Homo sapiens: one gene and its partners. The protein of the gene in region 1 interacts with the protein of each later gene in a biochemical or structural test. Each region holds a gene or a part of one and is shown in the gene's direction. Other genes may lie near its edges.

Evidence for each region.
Region 2: the proteins of VPS33A (region 1) and MON1A form a complex in vitro, tested with the Homo sapiens proteins (one study listed by BioGRID).
Region 3: the proteins of VPS33A (region 1) and MON1B form a complex in vitro, tested with the Homo sapiens proteins (one study listed by BioGRID).

The regions. Positions count from the first base shown.
Region 1 is NC_000012.12:122,256,431-122,263,533, reverse strand, and holds part of VPS33A (vacuolar protein sorting-associated protein 33A), read left to right. Parts: intron 1-2,086; coding exon 2,087-2,273; intron 2,274-7,103.
Region 2 is NC_000003.12:49,926,732-49,934,824, reverse strand, and holds the start of MON1A (vacuolar fusion protein MON1 homolog A), read left to right. Parts: upstream 1-5,013; 5' UTR 5,014-5,216; intron 5,217-5,289; exon of another isoform or gene 5,290-5,456; intron 5,457-5,490; exon of another isoform or gene 5,491-5,543; intron 5,544-8,093. UniProt on the Homo sapiens protein: Plays an important role in membrane trafficking through the secretory apparatus. Not involved in endocytic trafficking to lysosomes.
Region 3 is NC_000016.10:77,186,457-77,194,271, forward strand, and holds the start of MON1B (vacuolar fusion protein MON1 homolog B), read left to right. Parts: upstream 1-4,733; 5' UTR 4,734-4,765; coding exon of another isoform or gene 4,766-4,802; intron 4,803-5,019; 5' UTR 5,020-5,029; coding exon 5,030-5,177; intron 5,178-6,994; coding exon 6,995-7,321; intron 7,322-7,815. Other genes in the region: uncharacterized protein LOC124903725, read right to left, coding at 3,766-4,110.

The DNA.
Region 1 (7,103 bases):
TCTTATAATGCTTTTAATTTATGAGCTCCTTCTCATGGAAGACCCTCACTCTTGCCAGTGCAAGGTGGTCTTTTGGAAAACTGAGATAGGCATGGAAGAATATAAAAGAGAAGATGGGGGCTGGGGGGAGGTGGAGATAGTTAATGGGTACAACAAAAAATAGAATAAGACCTACTATTTGATAGCACAACAGGGTGACTATAGTTAATAATAATTACGTATTTTTAAACTTAAAAAGTGAGACTGGGCATGGTGGCTCACACTTGTAATCCCAGCATTTTGGGAGGCCAAGGCGGGTGGATCACTTGAGGTCAGGGGTTCGAGACCAGCCTGGCCAACATAGTGAAACCCCGTCTCTACTAAAAATACAAAAATTAGCCAGGTTTGGTGGCCTGTGCCTGTAGTCCCAGCTACTCGGGAGACTGAGGCATGATAGTCTGTTGAACCCGGGAGGCAGAGGTTGCAGTGAGCTGAGATCGCGCCACTGCACTCCAGCCTGGGCAACAGAGGGAGACTCCGTCTCAAAAAAAAAAAAAAAAAAAGAGTGTAATTGGATTGTTTTGTAACTCAAAGAGTAAGTGCTTGAGAGGATGTGTCCCCCCATTCTCCGTGATGTGCTTATTTCACATTGCATGCCCACATCAAAACATCTCATGGACCCCATAAATACATGCGCCTGCTATGTACCCCCCAAAAATTAAAAATAGAGAGGATGAGAAACTTAGGAAGTTGTTGTCAGCAGTTGGAGAGGAGGATCATCCTATCTACCCATTCTTTCAAGATAGCCAAAAGCTACCCATTCTTTAAAGATAGCCAAAAGCTTAAACCTGTGTCAGTAAAAAGGGCCCTAGTTTAAAAAAATAAACCTCCAGCAGTTATTTTTAAATATACTGCATGTACTTGAATTTCATAAGCAAAAAAAAAAAAAAAGCTGATTAAATTTTAATATAGCATCCAGTCTATAGAGGAAGTGCTCCCAGCCGAGTCTGCACTCTGTGGTACAATTGATTGTTGCAGCCCCTAAAATCTTAAAAGCATATGGGCTATTTTTGGAAGTTCTCTGTCAAGGAGAGTAGGAGTGGGAGTCAAAAGTGATCTTTCATTTTAATTTAAGACTCTTTGTGGCTGCATTGCTTTGGTTGAAGAACCATTTGTTTTTATTGAGACACAGATATCCTATTTCAATCAACCTGAGAGCTTCAATGCCCCATAAATGGTTTAAGAGAATGCTAAAATGTACTCGCCAGGACTCAGTGATGCTTTCCTGTCAGGGGGAAGAAAGAGAGAGAGAGTGGGTACAGCTGTAACACGTTGGGTCTGAGTCAGTTTTTGGTTATTTTTTTGAGACACAGTCTCACTCTGTTGCCCAGGCTGGAGTGCAGTGGTGGAATCTCTGCTCACTGCAACCTCTGCCTCCAGGGTTCAAGCAATTCCCCTGCTTTAGCCTCCCAAGTAGCTGAGATTACAGGCACACACCACCATGCCCAGCTGATTTTTGTATATTTTTGTTTTAGTTTTTATTTATTTATTTTGAGATGGAGTCTCGCTGTGTTGCCCAGGCTGGAATGCAGTGGCGTGGTCTCGGCTCACTGCAACCTCTGCCTCCCGGTTTCAAGCGATTCTCCTGCCTCAGCCTCCCAAGTAGCTGGGATTACAGGTGCCTGCCACCATGCCCGGCTAATTTTTTGTATTTTTAGTAGAGTCGTGGTTTCTTCGTGTTGGCCAGGTTGGTCTCCACCTCCTGTTCTCGTGATCCGCTCGCCTCGGCCTCCCAAAGTGCTGGGATTACAGGCATGAGCCACTGCGCCCAGCCATTTTTGTATATTTTATAGAGACGGGGTTTTGCCACCTTGACCAGACTGGTCTCGAACTCCTGACCTCAACTGATCCGCCCGCCTTGGCCTCCCAAAGTGCTGAGATTACAGGTGTGAGCCACTGCACCCGGCCTGAGAGTCAGTATTTATATGATTTATCTAGCCAGCATTTATTTAGTGCCTGCTATGTGCCAGGCAGTGGGGATAAAAAAAGCAAAATGGTCCATGACTCTTAGGAGCTCATAAGCTAACAAATGTTGCTTCCTTTGCAGTGAAGATAGACGAGGCCCAACGAGAGATTTTCATATTCTGTTTGTGCCACGCCGTAGCCTGTTGTGCGAACAGCGGTTGAAGGATCTGGGTGTCTTGGGATCCTTTATTCACAGGGAGGAGTACAGCTTAGATCTCATTCCATTCGATGGGGATCTCTTATCCATGGAATCAGAGGGTGCATTCAAAGTAAGTTTGGCATTTCCTTAACTTCAGGCATTAATTTTTGCCCAGTTTATGAGTGTGAGCATACCACAGTACTGATTACTGTGAAGCTGAGTCCCATTTTATATGTTTATTGATGTTTAAGATTTTCTGTTCAACAAATTGTTCATTTTCTTTGCCCGTTTTTTCTTTTTGAGTAATTCTTTGTATATTCTGGATGTTGATCATTATGGATTATAAAAGCTGCAAGTATCTTCCCAGTCTGTGACTTGTCTTTTAACTTTGTTTTTTTGTTTTGTTTTGTTTTTTTGAGACGGAGTCTCGCTCTGTCGCCCGGGCTGGAGCGCAGTGGCGCGATCTCAGCTCACTGCAGCCTCCGCCTCTTGGGTTCAAGGGATTCTTCTGCCTCAGCCTCCTGAGTAGCTGGGATTACAAGTGTGCGCCACTATGCTTAGCTGATTTTTGTATTTTTAGTAGAGACAAGGTTTCACCATGTTGCTTGGCCAGGATCCGCTTCATGATCCGCCCGCCTCCGCCTCCCAAACTGCTGGGATTACAGGCGTGAGCCACCGCGCCTGGCTTAACTTTGTGTATAATGTCTTTTATCATGTAGACACTTCCCATTAAAAGTAGTTAAATTTTAAAATTTTAAAATATTAGCTTTATTTATTATAACTCACAATACTGGCTGAGGTAAGTGGCTCATGCCTGTAATCCTAGCACTTTAGGAGGCTGAGGCGGGTGGATCACCTGAGATCAGGAGTTTGAGACCAGCCTGGGAAACATGGGGAAACCCCGTCTCTACTAGAAATACAAAATTAACCGGGTGTGGTGGTGGGTCCCTGTGGTCCCAGCTATTCAGGAGGCTGAGGCAGGAGAATCACTTGAACCCGGGAGGTGGAGGTTGCAGTAAGCCGAGATTGCGCCACTGCACTCCAGCTTGGGCGACAGAGGGAGACTCTATCTCAAAAAAACAAAAAACAAAAAACAAAAAAAAAAACTCACAATGCCATGAAATTCTCTCCTTTAAGGTGCAAAATTCAGTGGTTTTTAGTGTATTTACAAAGTTGTGCAACTATCTCCACTCTCTAAGTATGGCACATTTTAACTATTCCGAAAAGAATCCCCATGCCCAGTAGCAGTCTGTCGCTATCTTTCCTTCCCTCAGCCTCTGGCAGCCACTAATCTAGTTCAGTCTGTATGAATTCGCTTATTCTGGAGTTTTCCTTTTCTTCTTTTTTTGAGATAGAGTCTCACTCTTTTGCCCAGGTTGGAGTGCAGTGACGTGATAATACCTCACTGCAGCCTTGACCTCCTAGGCTTGAACGAATTTTCAGCCTCAGCCTTTTGAGTAGCTGGAACTACAGGCATGTGCCGCCACACCTGGCTAATTTTTTTTTAATTTCTTTTTTTTTCTATTTTTATTTTTTGGAGAGACAGCGTCTTATTATGTTGTCCAGGCTGGTTTTGAACTTATTCTGGAGATTTTTTAGAAATGAAATTCTATAATACATAAATGGTCCTTTGTGTCTGGCATCTTCACTTAGTGTAATGTTTTGAGGGTTCACCCAGGTTGAAGCCTGCGCGAGGCCTTCATTCCTTCTTATTGCTGAATAGTATTCCATTGTAATGATATTATCATTCATCAGCTGATGGACACCTGATGGGTTGTTTCCACTTTTTGGCTGTCACGATACTGTGAATATTGTGAAAAGTTTTTATGTGGATGTATGGTTTCATTTCTCTTAGATATACCTAGGAGTAGAGACTGGGCGTGGTGGCTCACGCCTGTGATCCTAGCACTTTGGGAGGCTGAGGTGGATGGATCACTTGAGGTTGGGAGTTCAAGACCAGCCTGACCAACATGGAGAAATCCCGTCTCTACTAAAAATACAAAATTAGCCAGGCATGATGGCGCATGCCTGTAATCCCAGCTACTTGGGAGGCTGAGGCGGGAGAATTGCTTGAACCTGGGAGGTGGAGGTTACAGTGAGCTGAGATCACGCCATTGCACTCCAGCCTGGGCAACAAGAGTGAAACTCTGTCTCAAAAATACATACATACATACATACATACATACATACATACATACATACACACATACATACACACACACACACCCCTAGGAGTAGAATTGCTGAGTTGTGGTAACTCTGCATTTAACATTTGGAGGAGCTGCCAAACTCTTTTGCACTGAAGCTGTACCGTTTGTACTCCCAGCAGCAGTGTGGGAGGGTTCCAGTTGTATATCCACATGGACAGACTTATTATTCTGTCTTTTTTTTTTTTTTTTTTTTTGAGATGGATTGTCACTTTGTCACCCAGCCTGGAGTACAGTGGTGCGATCTCGATCTTGGCACACTGCAACCTCGGCCTCCCAGGCTCAAGCAATTCTCCCGCCTCAGCTTCCTGAGTAGATGGGATTACAAGCATGCACCACCACGCCTGGCTAGTTTTTGTATTTTTAGTGGAGATGGGGTTTCGCCATGTTGGTCAGGCTGGTCTTGAACTCCTGACCTCAGGTGATCCACCTATCTCAGCCTCCCAAAGTGCTGCGATTACAGGCGTGAGCCACCATGCCTGGCCTGTTATTCTTTGAATTTAGTCATCCTACTGAGTATGAAGTGGTGTCTCATTGTAGTTTTTATTTGCATTTCCATAATGACTAAGGATGTTGATCATCTTTTCTTGTGCCTGTTGGCCTTTGTCTTCAGCTAAACAAATGTCTGTTCAGATCACTTGCCCATTTTTAAAATTGGGTTCTGTCATTTTTATTACAGAATTGTAAGAATTCTTAATAGATTCTAAATGCAAGTCTCTCCTCAGATACATGATTTCCAAGTATTTTCTTTTGTTCTGTGAGTTCTTTTCACTTTCTTGGTGAGATTGGTGTCGTTCGATGCACTAAAGTTTTAAATTTTGGTGAAGTCTCTTTTATCCAGTTTTTCTCTTGTTACTTGTGCTTTCAGTATCATCTCTGAGAAGCCATTGCCTACCCCAGGATCACAAAGATTCACTCTGATGTTTCCTTCTAAGAGTTCTATAATTTTTTATTTTTTAAAGAGACAGGTCTCACTATGTTGCCCAGGCTGGTCTCACACTCCTGAGCTCAGGCAATCCTCCCGCCTCAGCCTCCCAAAGTGCTGGGATTACAGGTGTGACCCACCGCGCCCAGCTTATAATTTTTCTACATCTTATGTTTAGGTCTTCAACCCATTTTAAGTTAATTCTGTATGTAATGCAAGGTGGGTGTCCAAATTTCATTTTTTACACATGGATATCTATTTGTTCCAGCACTATTTGTTGAAAAGACTGTATTTTCCTCATTGAATTGTTTTGGTACCCTTGTCAAAAATCAATTGTCCACAAATGTAAGGGTCTGTTTTTGGTCTTTTAGTTCTGTTTCACTGATCTATATGTCTGTATGTCCGTCCTTATGCCAGTACTACACTGTCTTGATTACAGTAGCTTTGCCATAAGCTTTGAAATCAGAAGTGTGAGTCCTTCACCCTAAAGCAGGTAAATATATCACTTTTGTTCTTTTAGATTGTGCTTTTTGAGTCTTCATAAATCTTCCACTCTGCAGACAAAGAAGAAAATCTTTTTTTTTTTGAGATGGAGTCTCACACTGTCACCCAGGCTGGAGTGCACTGGTGTAATCTCAGCTCACTGCAACCTTCACCTCCCAGGTTCAAGCAGTTCTCCTGCCTCAGCCTCCCAAGTAACTAGGATTACAGGCACACACCACCACGCCCAGCTAATTTTTTTGTGTATTAGTAGAGACGGGGTTTCACCGTGTTGTCCAGCCTCCTGAGCTTCCACCTGCGCCCGGCCCTTTTTTTTTTTTTTTTTTTTTTTGAGGCAGAGTCTCACTCTGTTGCCCAGGCTGGAGTGCAGTGGCACAGTCTCGACTCACTGCAACCTCCGCCTTCTGGGTTCAAGCAGTTCTCTTGCCTCAGCCTCTCAAGTAGCTGGGATTACAGGCATCCACCACCACGCCCGCCTAATTTTTGTATTTTTAGTAGAGACGGGATTTTACCATGTTGCCCAGACTGATCTCGATGTCCTGACCTCAGATGATCCACCTGCCTCGGCCTCTGAAAGTGCTGGAATTACAGGCGTGAGCCACTGTGCCTGGCCTGAAGCTACTTTTTACCCCAGTTCTCAGACTGCCCCTTATCCCAGAAGCAATCACTATTTCTCTTTTAATTTGGGGTGGGGGGATATTATATGCAGCTACAGCTCATAGTATATAATCCCTCCCCACTTTTGTACAAGTAGTAGCATATGATATATATACTTTGGTATGTTGCGTTATTCTCTTAATAATATCTCTGAGTCATTTTCTACCACGTATGGCAATACTTGTTTATTCTCATTTGAAGCTGCATAGAGTTCCATTGTTTGGATGTACATAATGTATTAAATCAGCTTTCTGTTGGAGAGCATTTTTTTCCTCTCTACGCTGTTGGAGGCAGTGCTGCCGAGAATGAGCCTGTTTGTAGGCCCCTCTGCACATGCGCCCTTTGTAGGCTGCGTTCGCCTTTGTCATTTCTTTTGACATTGCTTCTGGTAATTTTGGCTGTGTGTATGTTTTTAACATAATCACACTTACCCATGTTTCTTTGATTTATGAGTTTATGATGCTGCTGCTGCTGGTGCCGCTGCTGCTGCTCTGGAGACTAGAACTTTTTTTTTTTTAATTGTTTTTGAGACAGATTCTCACTCAGTCACCCAGGCTGGGATGCAGTGGCACAATCTCGTCTCACCGCAACTTCCACCTCCCCAGTTCAAGCAATTCTCCCGTCTTAGCTATCCGAGTAGCTGGGATTACAGGAACGCGCCACCACGCCA
Region 2 (8,093 bases), on another chromosome or scaffold:
TTCATCTATGATTTCATTTAATCCTCGTAATAACTATATGACATTATCCCCTGTTTTTTGAGATGGAGTCTCGCTCTGTCACCAGGCTGGAGTGCAGTGGCACAATCTCGGCTCACTGTGACCTCCGCCTCCCCGGCTCAAGCGATTCTTCCATCTTAGCCTCCCGAGTAGCTGGGACAATAGGCACATGCCACCACATCCAGCTAATTTTTGTATTTTTAGTAGAGACAGGGTTTCACTATGTTGGCCAGAATGGTCTTGATCTCTTGACCTCATGACCACCTGCCTCAGCCTCCCAAAGTGCTGGATTACAGGCATGAGCCACTAGCCTGGCCAATATTATCCCCTTTTATAGTTTTTTTTTTTTTTTCCAAGACAGTCTTGCTCTTTCACCCAGGCTGAAGTGCAGTGGCGCGATCTCGGCTCACCGCAACCTCTGCCTCCGCCTCCGCCTCCACCTCCAGGGTTCAAACGATTCTCCTGCCTCAGCCTCCTGAGTAGCTGAGATTACAGGCTCACACCACCATGCTCAGCTAATTTTTTGGTAGTTTTAGTAGAGACGGGGTTTCAGCATCTTGGCCAGGCTGGTCCCGAACTCCTGACCTCAGGTGATCCACCCACCTCGGCTTCCCAAAGTTCTGGGATTATAGGCATGAACCACCACTCCCTGCCTCCCCTTTTATAGTTAAGGAAACCAGAGCCCAGAAAGGTTAAGTAACTTGCCACAGCTGAAAAGTGAAGGCGGAAGAAATGTAACAATTAGACGTCTTGTTCTTCCCCATATTTCTTCTCTTTTCTAGCTTTAGTGAAGATGTCAGAACCTGAGGTGCTGCAAGGTTATAACTCAAGTGTATCCTTGCTGGGTGTGTAGTCTTAATTACTCAGGAGGCTGATGTGGGAGGATGGCTTGGGCCCAGTAGTTCCTGGCCAGTCTGGGCAACATATTGAGACTCTGTCTCAATATAAAAATAAAAACAGTCCAGGCACAGTGGCTCACACCTGTAATCCCAACACTTTGGGAGGCCAAGGTAGGAGGATTGCTTGAGCCCAGGAGTTCCAGACCAGCCTGGGCAACATAAGGAGACGCCATTTCTACAAAAAATTTAAAACTTGCCCAATGTGGTGGCACACACTTGTGGTCCCAGCCACTCGGGAGGCTGAAGTGGGAGGATCACTTAGGCCCAGGAGGTCAAGGCTGCAGTGAGCCACTGCACTACAGCCTGGGTGACAGATTAAGACCCTGACTCAAAAAACAAACAAGGCCGGGCATGGGGGCTCATGCCTGTAATCCCAGCACTTTGGGAGGCCGAGGTGGGTGGATTGCCTGAGGTCGGGAGTTCGAGACCAGCCTGACCAACATGGAGAAACCCCATCTCTACTAAAAATACAAAATTAGCCGGGTGTGGTGGCACATGCCTGTAATCTCAGCTACTTGGGAGGCTAAGGCAGGAAAATCGCCTGAACCCGGGAGAAGGAGGTTGTGGTGAGCCGAGATCGCACCATTGCACTTCAGCCTGGGCAACAAGAGTGAAACACCGTTTCAAAAAAAAAAAAAAAAGTGGATTAAAACAAAGTTTTAAGTAATAACCTAAGATGTTTTAGTAAGTACCCACCATGATTTGCTCTGCGAGAATGTCTTAGGCACAAGTCTTAGCGAGAAATATATGAGATATATGGCCACTTGCTTAGCTAAGTAGATGTAATACTTCCAGATGACAGTAGTACTATCTGGTGGAGCTGATGTGCTTAACAGGAATAGTAAGACTCTGGAAGAAATCCTGAGCTAAACATGGAGACTGTCAAGAACTAGTTAGGTAGAAAACTTTAAATTTGGTCAGGCGCAGTGGCTCACACCTGTAATCCCAGCACTTTGGGAGGCCGAGGTGGGTGGATGCGGATCACAAGGTCAGGAGTTCGAGATCAGCCTGGCCAACATTGGTGAAACCCCGTCTCTACTAAAAATACAAAAATTAGGCTGGACGCAGTGGCTCACGCCTGTAATCCCAGCACTTTGGGAGGCCGAGGCGGGCGGATCACAAGGTCAAGAGATTGAGACCATCCTGGCCAACATGGTGGAACCCCATCTCTACTAAAAATAAAAAAATTAGCTGGGCATGGTGGTGCATGCCTGTAGTCCCAGCTACTTGGGAGGCTGAGGCAGGAGAATCGCTTGAACGTGGGAGGCTAAGGTTGCAGTGAGCCGAGATAGTGCCACTGCACTCCAGACTGGGTGACTGAGCAAGACTTCATCTCAAAAAAACAAAACAAAACAAAAAACTGGCCGGGCGCAGTGGCTCATACCTGTAATCCCAGCACTTTGGGAGGCCGAGATGGATGAATCACGAGGTCAGGAGTTCGAGACCAGTCTGACCAACATGGTGAAACATGTCTCTACTAAAAATACAAAAATCACAAAAATTTGCCGGGCGTGGTGGTACGCACCTGTAATCCCAGCTACTCTGGAGGCTGAGGCAGGAAAATTGCTTGAACGCGGGAGGCGGAGGTTGCAGTGAGCTGAGATCACGTCACTGCACTCCAGCCTGGGCAACAGAGCGAGACTCCGTCTCAAAAAAAAAAAAAAAAAGAAAACTTTAAATTTGTCTTCTGGGCGGGGTGTGGTGGCTCATGCCTGTAATCCCAGCACTTTGGGAGGCTGAGGCGGGTGGATCACGAGGTCAGGAGTTCAAGACCAGCCTGGCCAAGATGGTGAAACCCTGTCTCTACTAAAAATACAAAAATTAGCTGGGCGTGGTGGTAGGTACCTGTAATCCCAGCCACTCGGGAGGCTGAGGCAGAGAACTACTTGAACCCAGAAGGCAGAGGTTGCAGTGAGCTGAGATGGCACCACTGCACTCTAGCCTGGATGATAGAGACTTCATTTGAAAAAAAATAAGTAAATTAAATTAATTTGTCTTCTATGGAGATGAATTCTATAGGGTGTAAATTCAAGTTAATGAAATATAGGCAGGATATTAGCCAGGCATGGTGGCTTATGCCTGTAATCACAGTACTTTGGGAGGCCAAGATGGGAAAATTGCTTGAGGCCAAGAGTTCGATACCAGCCTTGTCAACATAGCATAGTGAAACCACCATCTCTAAAAAAAAAATAAAAAAAGAAAAAGAAAAAGGAAAGGAACATAGCCAGGACATTTCTGTACCAAGCAGAGAATGTTATATCTTGACTTAAACTCTCCTTCCTTCCTTCCTTCCTCCCTCCCTCCCTTCCTTCCTTCTTTCTTAACTTTCTCCTTCTTGTTGTCCATGATCATGGCTCACTTCAGACTTGATCTCCTGGGCTCAAGTAATTCTTCCTGCTTCAGCCTGTGGAGTAATTGGGATTACAAGGCTGTGCCACCAAGCCCAGCTCATGGCTCAAACTCTTATAGTGTAATAATTAGAGAAAACAACTGTATAAATGATTCTTGCCCTAAGGGAGGGAACTTGGACTTCTGAGCTAATGAGGAGATAAAATACTGAGTGATCTGTGGAGACCTGGAGAGACTCTCAGTTAAGGAATAGGGCATTTTCTTATGTCCTTACCTAAAAGTGGGGGACATGGGGGTGAGAAAGCTTCCCTTAGACTATGTGCAAGAACTTGATAGCCTTATGCAAAGCCATCTTCAGTGAAAGGCCACAGCTTTGTCACCATGTCAGTCACAGGCCAGTGTTGTGGAAGCAGGCTACAAGTGGCAGCCATCTGAGACTGGAAGAAAAGCCCAGGGGCGGAGCTCTACCCTAACTCCAGTGTAGGGCTTAGAGAGGAAAAGGACACTGCCCCCAGGTGCTTGTGGAGCAGCAGGGAAAGTCAGAGGAGTGATCTGACTTTTTTTTTCATCCTATTAACTTTTGGGAGAATTAACCATAAGGCTGTAAAGTGAATTAATTGCTTCAGAAAAGAACATGAGCAGTGGTGCCAAACACTAATTTTACTTTTTAAAACCATCTCTAAAAATAAGGGTCTTTTGGGAGAGCCTGTTGTTGACTGTTTTCCTGTTGTTTTTATTGCTTTGCGTCTAGGAAATTACAAACAATGATTCTTTGCAATGGTAAATCACCTGGGGAGCTTTTAAAACAATAGTGATGCCTGGCTCCCCAACACTCCACCCTACTCTAAATTCAATTAAATCAAAATCTCTAGGGCTGGTGTCCAGGCATTAGTTTTTTTGTTGTTGTTTTTGAGACAGGGTCTCGCTCTGGTGCTCAGGCTGGAGTGCAGGGCATGATCATGGCTCACAGCAACCTCGACCTCCTGGAATCCCACTTCAGCCTCCCGAGTATCTGGGACTACAGGCACACGCCATCAAGCCTGGCTAGTTTTTGTATTTTTAGTAGAGATGGGGTTTCACCATGTTGGCCAGGCTGGTCTGGAACTCCTGACCTCAAGTGATCCGCCCACCTCGGTCTCCCAAGTGTTGGGATTACAGGCGTGAGCCGCCTCGCCCGTCCTAGTTCTTTTTTTTTTTTTTTAAAGCTTCCCGGCTTATTCTATGTGCCGTCAGAGTTGAGAACTACCGTTCTAGAGCATTATACTGATACATTAAAACGTGGCTACAAATATGTTTTTAGAAACAATTAGTGCGACTTTTGCGCATGCCCACATCCTTTACAGCCTGTGTGGCTGGGCCCACTAATGACATTTATCCAGTCCCCCAAACTTGCACTGTCCTTCCACAATCAGTGGGAGAAACAATCCTAACGTCCCTTTCTCTCACTTGAAATGAACTGCTAGCTGGCTCGGACGGAGAGGCCCAGAGTCCAGGGCTGTTCTGTGTGGGACTCTAGACTCGGAGGAGGCGCCCAGGCCCCTAGAAGGCGGCGCCGGATGAGGCAATCGCGGACCCGGGTCAGGACCTGCCCACGGCTCTGCTGGGACTAGGAGCCCAGAACCAGTCCCTCGGCGCCGCAGGCGGCCAAACGCTAAGGACTACATTTCCCACAATGCACCCCGGGGGCGGGCCGAGTCGGGCTGAGCGGCTGGAGCTGGGCCTTGGCCGCGAGAGGCCGGCGAAAGCTATCTTCCTGCACCGGCGGCCGGGTGAGGGCGGTGGGAGGGAGCGGTGCCTGCGCTGTGGCCATGTCTGTGTACGCAGGGGGCCGGGGCCCCGCGAAGCTGTGCCCTCAGGCCGGCCCCGGCCGGACACCCTTACCCCTCCATGGGTCCGGCAGAGGGCAGTGACCGGCACCTTCTGTGCGTCCTGGACTCCTCTGAGAAACAGGTGAGTTGACTGCCAGCCCACGTGGCCTGGAGGCACCTAGAGACTGGAGAGCTGTCATCTTTGGAGGGAGGGGCTTGAAGACGGGGGCCTCCAGCCATCAACGCTATCGTTTGCAATGGGAAGACTGTGTCTCCCTGCGGTCCCTCAGCCGGCTAGTCCCCAGCTGGGGAATACAAAAGGCGAGATCTGGAACCCATCCTTTGGCTGGGAGGGCGAGATCCGGTAGGGGGCAGTGGCCAGGTAGGACTCTCCCCACTCCCCCACCCCCGCCCCGCCAACAAACGTACACATATTCGGCCGGTAGAGTCTTCTCAAAAAGCAACAGAGGTAACTGGGATGAGCGGGGCAGCACCTGGAAGGGGCTTGGGTCTTTGCTTTGTTGTTTTTAGACGGAGTTTCACTCTTGTTGCCCAGTCTGGAGTGCAGTGGTGTGATCTCAGCTCTCTGCAACCTCCGCCTCCCAGGTTCAAGCGATTCTCCTGCCTCAGCCTCCCGAGTAGCTGGGATTACAGGCATGCGCCACCACGCCCAGCTAATTTTTTGTATTTTTGTATTTTTTTAGTAGAGACGGGGTTTCACCATGTTGGCCAGGCTCGTCTTGAACTCCTGACCTCAGGTGATCTGCCTGCCTCAGCTTCCCAAAGTGCTGGGATTACAGGCATGAGCCACTGCGCCTGGCCGGACTTTGCACCAGTTTGCCTGGTGCAACTGGGTTGTCCCTTGTACTGGGTGAGCCACCCTTTCTGGGCACAAGTTTGCAGAGGGAGAGTGAGCACCCTTTGTCAGGGAGGGAAGTAACCGCCAGAAGTGACAAGGACCAGACTGTGATCTCAGCATGGAGTAGGCATCCTGCTGAAGCAGCCATAGCACAGCCTCACCTGGGCCTTGTCTGCCACACATCCTGTATCCTGGCACCTCCTTTCCAGACAGGCCGCTCCAAAGGGTTAAGGTGAAATGAAGTGCTATCCAAGCAAGAAGAGGGAGCAGGAGTGGTAGGGAGTCAGTAGGGAGGGGCTTCTGAAGGCCTTCTCTGCTCCAAGGCTGCCTGAGTGAGAGAGGCACACTACAAGGGCTGATTGAGCCAACTTGTTTGGTGACATTGCTCACAGGCATAGCAGGGCACTTCTAGGAAAAGCAAGGCCTGGGGCTTCTAGAGGGGTTGTCTGAGAAGGGTTCCCTGAGAAGGGGCATCTGGGGCTGGTTCTAAGAGACCTCCTTTGCCTAACTTCTTCAATTCTAGCCTCCCAGGAGCTTCAGTTGCACAGTTGTGGCTCCAATGGGGGTTGGGGTGGATTTTGCTGTGATTCACTCAGCCTCCCTGTCTGAGTTTCCAGAGTAAGTATTCAGAGAGCTGTTTGCTTCATCAGGCCTCTGGCTGGACCCCAGACTGACCTAGGAGATGCTGAGATACTGTATGATCTCAGGTGGCAGGAGAACTATTGTGAAGGAAGCATCCACTAGCTCTGGCCAGCTGATCTGGCCCCCGCCAACCCTTCCCCATGCAGGTACCGTGCTGGGTACCACTCAGCCACACTGGGCTTAGTCAGCTAAAGCCCACAAGGGATCAGTGGAGAGTGGGCCCTGAGGACAGAATAAGTAAGCTATTGTAGACCTTGTTTGGGTCTTTGAACCAAAAGTGCAACGTCACAGAGCAGTGGCATGTGGCAGACCAAGGAGTTTTTTGTTTTTTTTTGTTGTTTTTTTTTTTGAGACAGAGTTTCAATCTTTTGCCCAGGCTGGAGTGCAATGGCGCGATATCAGCTCACTGCAACCTCTGCCCCCTGGGTTCAAGTGATTCTCCTGCCTCAGCCTCCTGAGTAGCTGGGATTATAGGCGCCTGCCACCATACCTGGCTAATTAAGGAGTTTAATTTAGGAGATACTTCCAAGAGCAGCAGAGAGCCCGTTGTCTATTCCTGCAACTCCAGAGCCAGTGAACAACCAGTTAGCCTGGAGGAACTCCCAGCTGTCTATAAGACAGCTCTTTGACCTGACTCCCAACTGTCTATATGATAGCCCTAGCCTGAAGGTGAGTCGCTTCAGGCTAGGGCCCACCTGGCTTTGCAAGGTCAGAAGCGTATTTGCCCATATGCCACTGTAGGCTGAGCAAAATCTCAGAGGCCCGATTTACATGGCACAGACCACTGGATTCATGTGGTATTATAAGTGCAGTCACACATGGACTGAATGCTAAGTAAGAATAATCAGGATGTGCTAATGGGAGCAACTGAGTATGTAATCAAATTACATGGATTATTTCATTTAATCTTCCCACAACCCAAGGAATCAATACTACTATCCCATTTTATAAATGAGAAAACTGAGACCAGGCCAGGTTAATCCAGGTCCCTCTAACTTCGGAGCCATTGTTCCTGAACACCTGAGTAGTACCAGTGATAAGTCTTCCCCACAGGCAGGGGTTTCCAGAGGCCACATCACAGGTGTGACAGAGCTGGGCATTCTTCAGAGATCTTTCAGTTTTCCCTTCCATTTTTCTTTTTTAATTGCCTGAGGGATAAAAACACAAGTTCAGCTGGGCGCGGTGGCTCATGCCTGTAATCCCAGCACTTTGGGAGGCCGAGGCCGGTGGATCACCTGAGGTCAGGAGTTTGGGACCAGCCTGGCCAACATGATGAAACCCCATCTCTACTAAAAATACAAAAATTGGATGGGCATGGTGGTACACACCTGTAATCCCAGCTACTCGGGAGGCTGAGGCACAAGAATTGCTTGAACCCAGGAGGCAGAGGTTGCAGTGAGCCAAGATCATGCCACTGCACTCCAGCCTGGGCGACAGAATGAGACTCCATCTCAAAAAAAAAAAAAATCTCCCTCCCAAAGATGTCTGTTGGCTGGATGTGGTGGCTCACACCTGTAA
Region 3 (7,815 bases), on another chromosome or scaffold:
TTTTTGTATATTTACAGGAGTCCCTTTTTTTGTTGGTGTTTATTTATTTATTTATTTATTTATTTATTTATTTATTTTTGAGATGGAGTTTCGCTCTTTTTGCCCAGGCTGGAGTACAATGGCATGATCTTGGCTCACTGCAGCCTCCACCTCCCAAGTTCAACTGATTCTCCTGCCTCAGACTCCCAGGTAGCTGGGATTACAGGCACATGCCATCACACCCAGCTAATTTTATATTTTTAGTAGAGACAGGGTTTCACCATGTTGGCCAGGCTGGTCTCGAACTCCTGACCTCAAGTGATCCACCCACCTCAACTTCCCAAAGTGCTGGGATTAGAGGCATGAGCCACCACGCCTGGCCCATTTATATTTTTACAGACCACATAATTACATTGAGATCTTGTAGTGAGCCTATATTTAGGCCCTGATGTTATATACAGTTGGACAATCTCTGTTTTAATTCTACTATTTATTTGTATTTAATGCAATTTTTAACATAGTTGAATTAGTGTCTTGCATCTTGCTGTTTGTTCTCTATTTGTCCAATCTGTTCTTTATTGTTTTGTTCCTCTTTTTCATCTTTCTTTTGGATGGCATACACTTAGTATTCCACTTTATCTCAACTCTTGGCCTATTATTTCTTTGGCATTAAATTTCTTTGGCATTTCTGTATTTTTTTCCCCATGTCAACAAAATGCTTCTTTCATTCCTCACAATATATCTTCAAATAATAATTCTTCATGTAAAATGTGAGAGCCTTAAAGTAATGTGCTATCATGTATAACTTCAGTCATTTGTGTTATTGCTGCCACACATTTTATTTCTACAAATATTATAAACCCCACAATACATCGGTTTTGCATTTAGATAAGTCAATTATATTCTTAAATGAGAAAATATACTTTACTATTTATCCACAATAGTAAAAGTCTTTTAGATTTTGGAAGCAACACATACCACATTTCAGTGTGTGACTTTGACTCATTTACAGAATTACCTGTAGATTTCAAGTGAGAAGAACAAAAGAAAGTGAGTTCAGACTGCAGGTTAAGCTAATCCACCACTTGGGGCTTATGATCCAGCAGACCCATAGATTGTCAAACTGTCCATGGCAAATAAGGATGCTCTACAGAGCATCTGGCAAGCAACAATAGGACAAAAAAAAAACACTACACAGATGTGTAAGATTTTGAAATAAATCTATCCTCTCTTCTGTAGTTAATGATTCTTCTTTTGAACAGGTTTGGGACCAGGCCTTGGTAAAGAATGAGCACCTAACTATGGGATGTCAGGTGATTGCACAGCCTGAGATTTCGATCATGGGCTGGGTGTTGGATACTCACCTAGCTATAAGGTTGGGTGCTTTATTTATTTATTTTATTAATATTATTATTATTATTTTTGAGATGGAGTTTCACTCTTTTGCCCAGGCCGGAGTGCAGTGGTGCAATCTTGGCTCTCTGCAACCTCTGCCTTCTGGTTTCAAGCGATTTTCCTGCCTCAGACTCCCAAGTAGCTGGAATTACAGGCACCTGCCATCACGCCCTGCTAATTTTTGTATTTTTAGTTTCACCATGTTGGCCAGGCTGGTCTCGAACTCCTGATCTTGTGATCTGCCCGCCTCGGCCTCCCAAAGTGCTGGAATTACAGGCATGAGCCACTGTACCCAGCCTGACATTGGACGCTTTATTATCAAACAGAAATGGTACGTAAGAGATCAAGCTCAGGCTTAACATGAGGGTCTAACTGAGTTCCTGTCCTTAAGTCCTAGGCAGTATTTTGTGTTTTCCTTTACGTCCTTTCTTAGACTCATCTGTAGCTTGGGATTACCTGGGACTTACACAGTGTCCATAAAGTCAGGAAGTATAAACATATATAATGTCACAAAGACATCTTTGATCTGTTAAAAAAACAAACAGAAAAAAACTCTGTGTCTGTGTGTGTGTCTACAATTTGTAAACACTCTGCAGTTCAAGCCATGAGCCATAACTTAAAATCTACTGGAGAGGTTTGTTGAGATATTTTTGGTCTTTGCTTTTCTGATTAAAAAAAAAAAAAGGCAGACACACCAGAGATGGCTCTATGTTCCTTCACTTGTTCCCATCTCTCATCTTTGATTGTAGAAATTGTTTAGAGTGGCAAATCATCAAACACGGAATGCTAATAAAGCTCCATAAACTTACGTCTGCAGTTTTGAAATCCAAAAAGCTCCAGAAAAATAATTTTTAAAAGCTCACTTGGAGGTAAAACCTGAACTAAACTAACATAAGACGGTTTAGTGTTTCTCTTACTGGGAGTAATAAAAAGTTTCACTCAGAAAAAATGAGTTTAGTTATCAGGTGTTTCCCAGTCCCTTGCTGGGCTCTATATAATACATGGCACATGCACCTAATTTCATTTCTAAAATCAGGAAAATGTGTGAATTTAAAACACATCTGGCACTAAGGGTTTCAGATAAGAGACTGTGTGACAATTGTTCTTAGTTCTGCCATTTTCCCTGGAAAACAATCTTTAAAGTTCACAGAGCACATCAGCAAGAATTTTTAAAAGGAGCCTAATTGTGATATGGTTTTGTTGAAATACAAGGCAGGTGTAAAAGGAAAATAAATCTCAGGACTCCAAAATTACTAAGCCAAAGGTAAAAGTCAAGCTGGGAACTGCATCAGGCAAACCTGCCTCCCAGTTTATCCCTAAATAAGATATTTACAAAGATAAAGCTACATACTTCCCTCATAATTTGCCCTCTAGGGATTCCTTGTGGGCTGCAAGATCTTTACCCTAAAACGGTTCTGTTGAATTTTACCCTGACAACGTAAATTGATAGTTTATCTTCACAGGTGCGAGACAAAGGAGCGAACCCCAAGTCATCCCTCTGCTCACCTGAAACAAATGCATATCTGATTGCTTCCTCTGAGGTAAAAATGCAGATTGACAAAGCTAGATGAAGGCGTAACTATTCCTCTACTCCCCTGATAAGGTTTGGATCTATGTTCCCACCGAAATCTGATGTCGAATGGTAATCCCCATTATTGAAGGTGGGGTCTGGTGGGAGTTGATCGGATCTTGGGGGTGAATCCTTCATGAATGGTTTAGCATCATCCTCTTGGTGACAGTGACTGAGGGAGTTATTGCGAGATCTGGTTGTTTAAAGTGTGTAGCCCTGGGCTGGGCATGATGGCTCACTCCTGTAATCCCAGCAATTTGGGAAGCTGAGGCGGGTGAATCACCTGAGGTCGGGAGTTCAAGACCAGCCTGGCCAACATGGCGAAACCCCATGTCTACTAAAAATACAAAAATTAGCCGGACGTGGTGGCGGGCACCTGTAATCCCAGCTACTCCAGAGGCTGAGGCAGGAGAATTGCTTGAACCCGGGAGACGGAGGCTGCAATGAGTCAATAACATTTTGCCATTGCACTCCAGCCTGGGTAACACAGCGAGATTAATAAATAAGTTTGCTTATGAGATGTTATTTTATTGTACTTTTTTACATGTTTATTATATATTATATACTTCTAAATGTATTAGGTAAATATATTTTGTATGCACATAAATTTATCCATTGTTTCTGTTATATAAATTTAATATTTATTACTTATCGATTACCTATTGTATATAAAGCACATGATGCTACACTGGTATTTGGAATTCATTACCCTAACTATACTGTAATTAAAATAATTATCCTAACTAGTACCAAAGGCTTCCCCTTAGCAATCACTCGAAGTGTGCCAGCACCTCCACTCACTTCACGTCAAGCGATTCCCATCATTGTTTCACTGATGGAGAAACCAAGGCCCAGGGCACTTGGGGCAAGGCGTTCAGGGGGCTTTCGGTCCGGAAGCAGCGTCGGGGCGGGAATTCGAACCCTGGGTTCCCACACTGGCCCGTGGCAGGGCCCCCAAGCCTTTTCCCAAACTGATCACAGAAAGTGACGACCCGTTCGCCCGGCGGACCGGGGGCGTCGGGCAGGTCCTGGTCCAAGTGAGTGCCCGCCCCTGCCCTGGGCTGGCAGAGTTCTTCCCCCAGCTGCAGGTAGACGTGGGAACCCGGCAGGGTACGGAGCTGCTGGCGCGGCACGCTGATTAGAAGCGGCGACTGCCCGTCAAGCATTCGCGCCTCTCCCCTCCCTTGACTTTCTTGGCAGGGTTAAGGGATAAGAGAAAGTGGAGTTGCCTCAGTTCTGGGAGAGCCCGTTTGTGGGTCCGGCACAGGTATCCATCGGGACTGACGCTGCAAAAGTCCTCTTGTGAAACAAGGAATAGGCTCGAGTCTTCGATTGGGTCGAGGGAGACGTCAATCAATGGATGGGCGTGTGCAAACGCAACACAACGCACAGTATTGGTTAGGATTTGGCGGGGGGAGTAGACAGCGGGGAAATGAGGCGGCTCATCTCGATTGGCCCAGAAAGAAGACGGTCGCGCCCTATGTACTCCGGGATTGGCTAGAGCGAGCCGCGTCCCCCCTCACGCCAACCACTGGTAAGCGAAGTGGGCCTCGCTCTCCCGGGTTAGCAGCCGTAGCCAGATCCGTTGAAAGGAGTGCAGAGAGGTCTCATTGCGCTCCCGAACAGACCTGACGTAGATCCGAAGTGGCCCGCGCCATCTCAACTATGAGGGGACACCCGTAGGCGGCGGGAGAGGGACGCCGCGAGGAGCCAATAAAGCTCCGCAACCGGAAGTGTCTTCTGGGAGGGGTCGTACCCGGAAGTGTGGCACCTCCCGGGCCGCACCCGGAAGTGTGATGCCACCGCCGCTACGGGGAAGTAATGGTATCCGGCCAATTGAGATTCGGAGTTAAAACAGGTGTTTGTATATCTCTATTTCCTGAGGCCCAGTAGAGTCTCCTCTTTTCGGAAAGTGTTGGAGGGGGGACGTATTTGGGCATGATTTTGGATGTCTCGTCCTATTGAAATCCGTGGGGAAATGAGCAGTAGGAGTGTGTCCAAGGGGGCCTGACTCTATAAAGGCTTTTCAGAAGTTTCTTTCACCGCCCGTCACCCTCGATTCCCCTCCCACTCAGGGATGTGCAGATGGAGGTCGGAGGAGACACTGCTGCCCCGGCCCCCGGGGGCGCGGAGGACTTGGAGGACACGCAGTTCCCCAGTGAGGAAGCTAGAGAAGGTGGAGGGGTTCACGCGGTCCCGCCGGATCCCGAAGACGAGGGCCTGGAGGAAACAGGTATGACTCCACTTAGTGGGGTCTTAAAAGGAATCCTTAGGGGTTGTCATTGTTGGACGGGGGAAGGGTCAGTGGGTGACCAGTAGGGAGTCTTGGGACTTAAGAGAAGTGGCTTAAACCATCGCCGGGTCAGGAGGAGGTCACTGTGGACACATGGTGTAGTTTACATCATTGAGGAAGTCATTGGCTGTCAACGGATGTTCACTGGGGGTTTGGTGTGAGTTTAGGTCATTGAGGAATCAAAAAGGGGGCTGTTAGGACCAAAGAGGGTCACTGAGGATTTAGAGTGTTTAGATCAAAGAATGCGCTGAAGAAAGTCAATAGACTCAACAGAGGAGGACTGTTGAGAAGTTAGTGTTTTTGAGGAGTAGGGTGTTATTTATTAAATAATAGAAGTGGGAAGGGGAATCAGTGGAGTTCGATGGGCACTCAGAGTATTTACATCATTGAAGTCACTTGTAGACTGTTGGGGAAGTCTTTAAGGGACCAAATGTTAGTGGATGTGTAAAGTTGTTCATTTGAGATTTAATGGAAGTCACTGAGAAGTCTGTGCCATTGATCACTTTGGAATTAGTGGATGTAAATGGAGTCATTGGGAAGGATCAGTGGACCTCACTGAGAATAAATGTGGATGGGGAGGTTGAGGACTTGGGAATTAATAGCAGGTAAGAGCAGTTATTAGGAGGGAGTAAAGATATTTGGGGACATGGGAGTGTCAGTGAATGTCAGTGACAGAATATGCAATTATTGGGATTTTATGGGAAAATTATTGAGACATAGTTGCACATGGATAATAATGGTTGTCATTGGGGGATGAATGGAAATCAATGGGAATAAATGGATGTGTCAGTAGGGGCTGTTGAAGTTGTGGGTTTTAGTGAATGTTAATGATGGTCATGGGTAGGGGCAATGGAAGTCATTAAAGTCTTGTGTGTTAGTGGATATTATGATGGTTACTGTAGGGAGGGGAGTGGATACCAATGAGATTGAAGGTGGTCAGGGGAGTGACTGAAGGTCTCTGAAGTGCTGGGTGTTAGTGGAGGTTAATGATGGTCATTGTTGGGGGTAGGGGGGAGTAGACATGGAGTAGAATAACTTGTGGATCAGGGCAGTCATGGAGGGTCATTGAAAAACCAGGTGTTAATGATTGTTAATGTGGGGTCATTGGGGTGTTTGTGAACCACAGTGGGAGTGAATAGTGGATTAGGGGAGTCCTAAATATCTGGGTGTTAGTGGATATTAACGACAGTCATTGGGAGAAATAGTGGACATTACCAAGAATATAAATGGGCAACCAGGAGAGTTAGTAGGGGTCATCAGGTATCAGTGGGCATCACTGATAGGGTAGTAGCGGGGGTTGGGGCATTCAAACAGTTAAGATATTAATAGATGTTAATGGTGGCCATTGGGTGAGCAGATATCAGGAGAAAAAATAGCGGTCAGAGGAGTTAATGGGGGATCATTGAAGATGAATAATCGTCATCCAGAGTCAATGGGGTGCTTTGAAGACTTTGGAATAACAGTGATTGAAAGGGAAGTAATTGGTCTGTAGGAACATAGCAAGTCCAGTGGAATAACAATGAGAATATGTTGGTTTATTAGGGTTTTAGGAAGTTCATTGGAACCTAAATGTTAGTGGAGATCATTGCGGGGTCCTAGGGCAGTCATCGGGTCATTGAGGGGCATAGGAGACACTTGGAGTTCTGCGTCAGCATGCAGGGGTCATGGAGGGGCTAGTAGATATTTGGTGGGTCCTTGGGGATGTGGGATTAGTTAGGAGTTCACATGCAGATGACCCACCAGGGGCTCCCTTTCAGGATCCAAGGACAAGGACCAGCCACCCAGCCCATCACCACCGCCCCAGTCAGAGGCCCTGTCAAGCACCTCTCGGCTCTGGAGTCCTGCAGCCCCTGAGAATAGTCCCACATGTAGCCCTGAGAGTAGCTCTGGAGGCCAGGGCGGGGACCCCAGTGATGAGGAGTGGCGCAGCCAGCGGAAGCATGTGTTTGTGCTGAGTGAGGCTGGCAAGCCCATCTACTCGCGGTATGGTAGTGTGGAGGCGCTGTCGGCTACCATGGGTGTAATGACCGCCCTGGTGTCCTTTGTGCAGAGTGCGGGAGATGCCATCCGTGCCATCTACGCTGGTGAGCAAACAGGTGGGAGGCAGAATGGGGGACAGTGACTGGGAATATGGCTGGCACGGGTAGGTCTGTCTGCCTCAGGCACTATCCAGCCAGCCAGGGTTGGGTCCATGTGTGTGGATGGTCAGCCAGAGCTCTGTCAGTGGCGGGAGGTGGGGGGGTTCATCTCTGTCTGGCCTGCTGGTTTCTTAGTGATTGACTTGCTGGGATCTCAGTGACTAGCTGGATACTTCTGTGTCACCTGAGAGGATAACTGTGGGGGCTGTGTGGTTGAGCTGTGTCTTTCTGGCTCTGTGTCAGCCCTTGTACCATCTCTACCCGCCTGCCCGTGGTCTTTGCTGTGTATCTAACCTACTTGTTCCTTTGTCCATCCCATCATGTCTCTGCAAATGTCCAGATTCCTCCAGCTTGTCCTTACCCCAGTCCAGGTGCCCACAGAGTGAGCATGTGGACTCGGGCCTGGTGTGTGTATGGTAGGAGAGGGCAGAAGAGCCCCA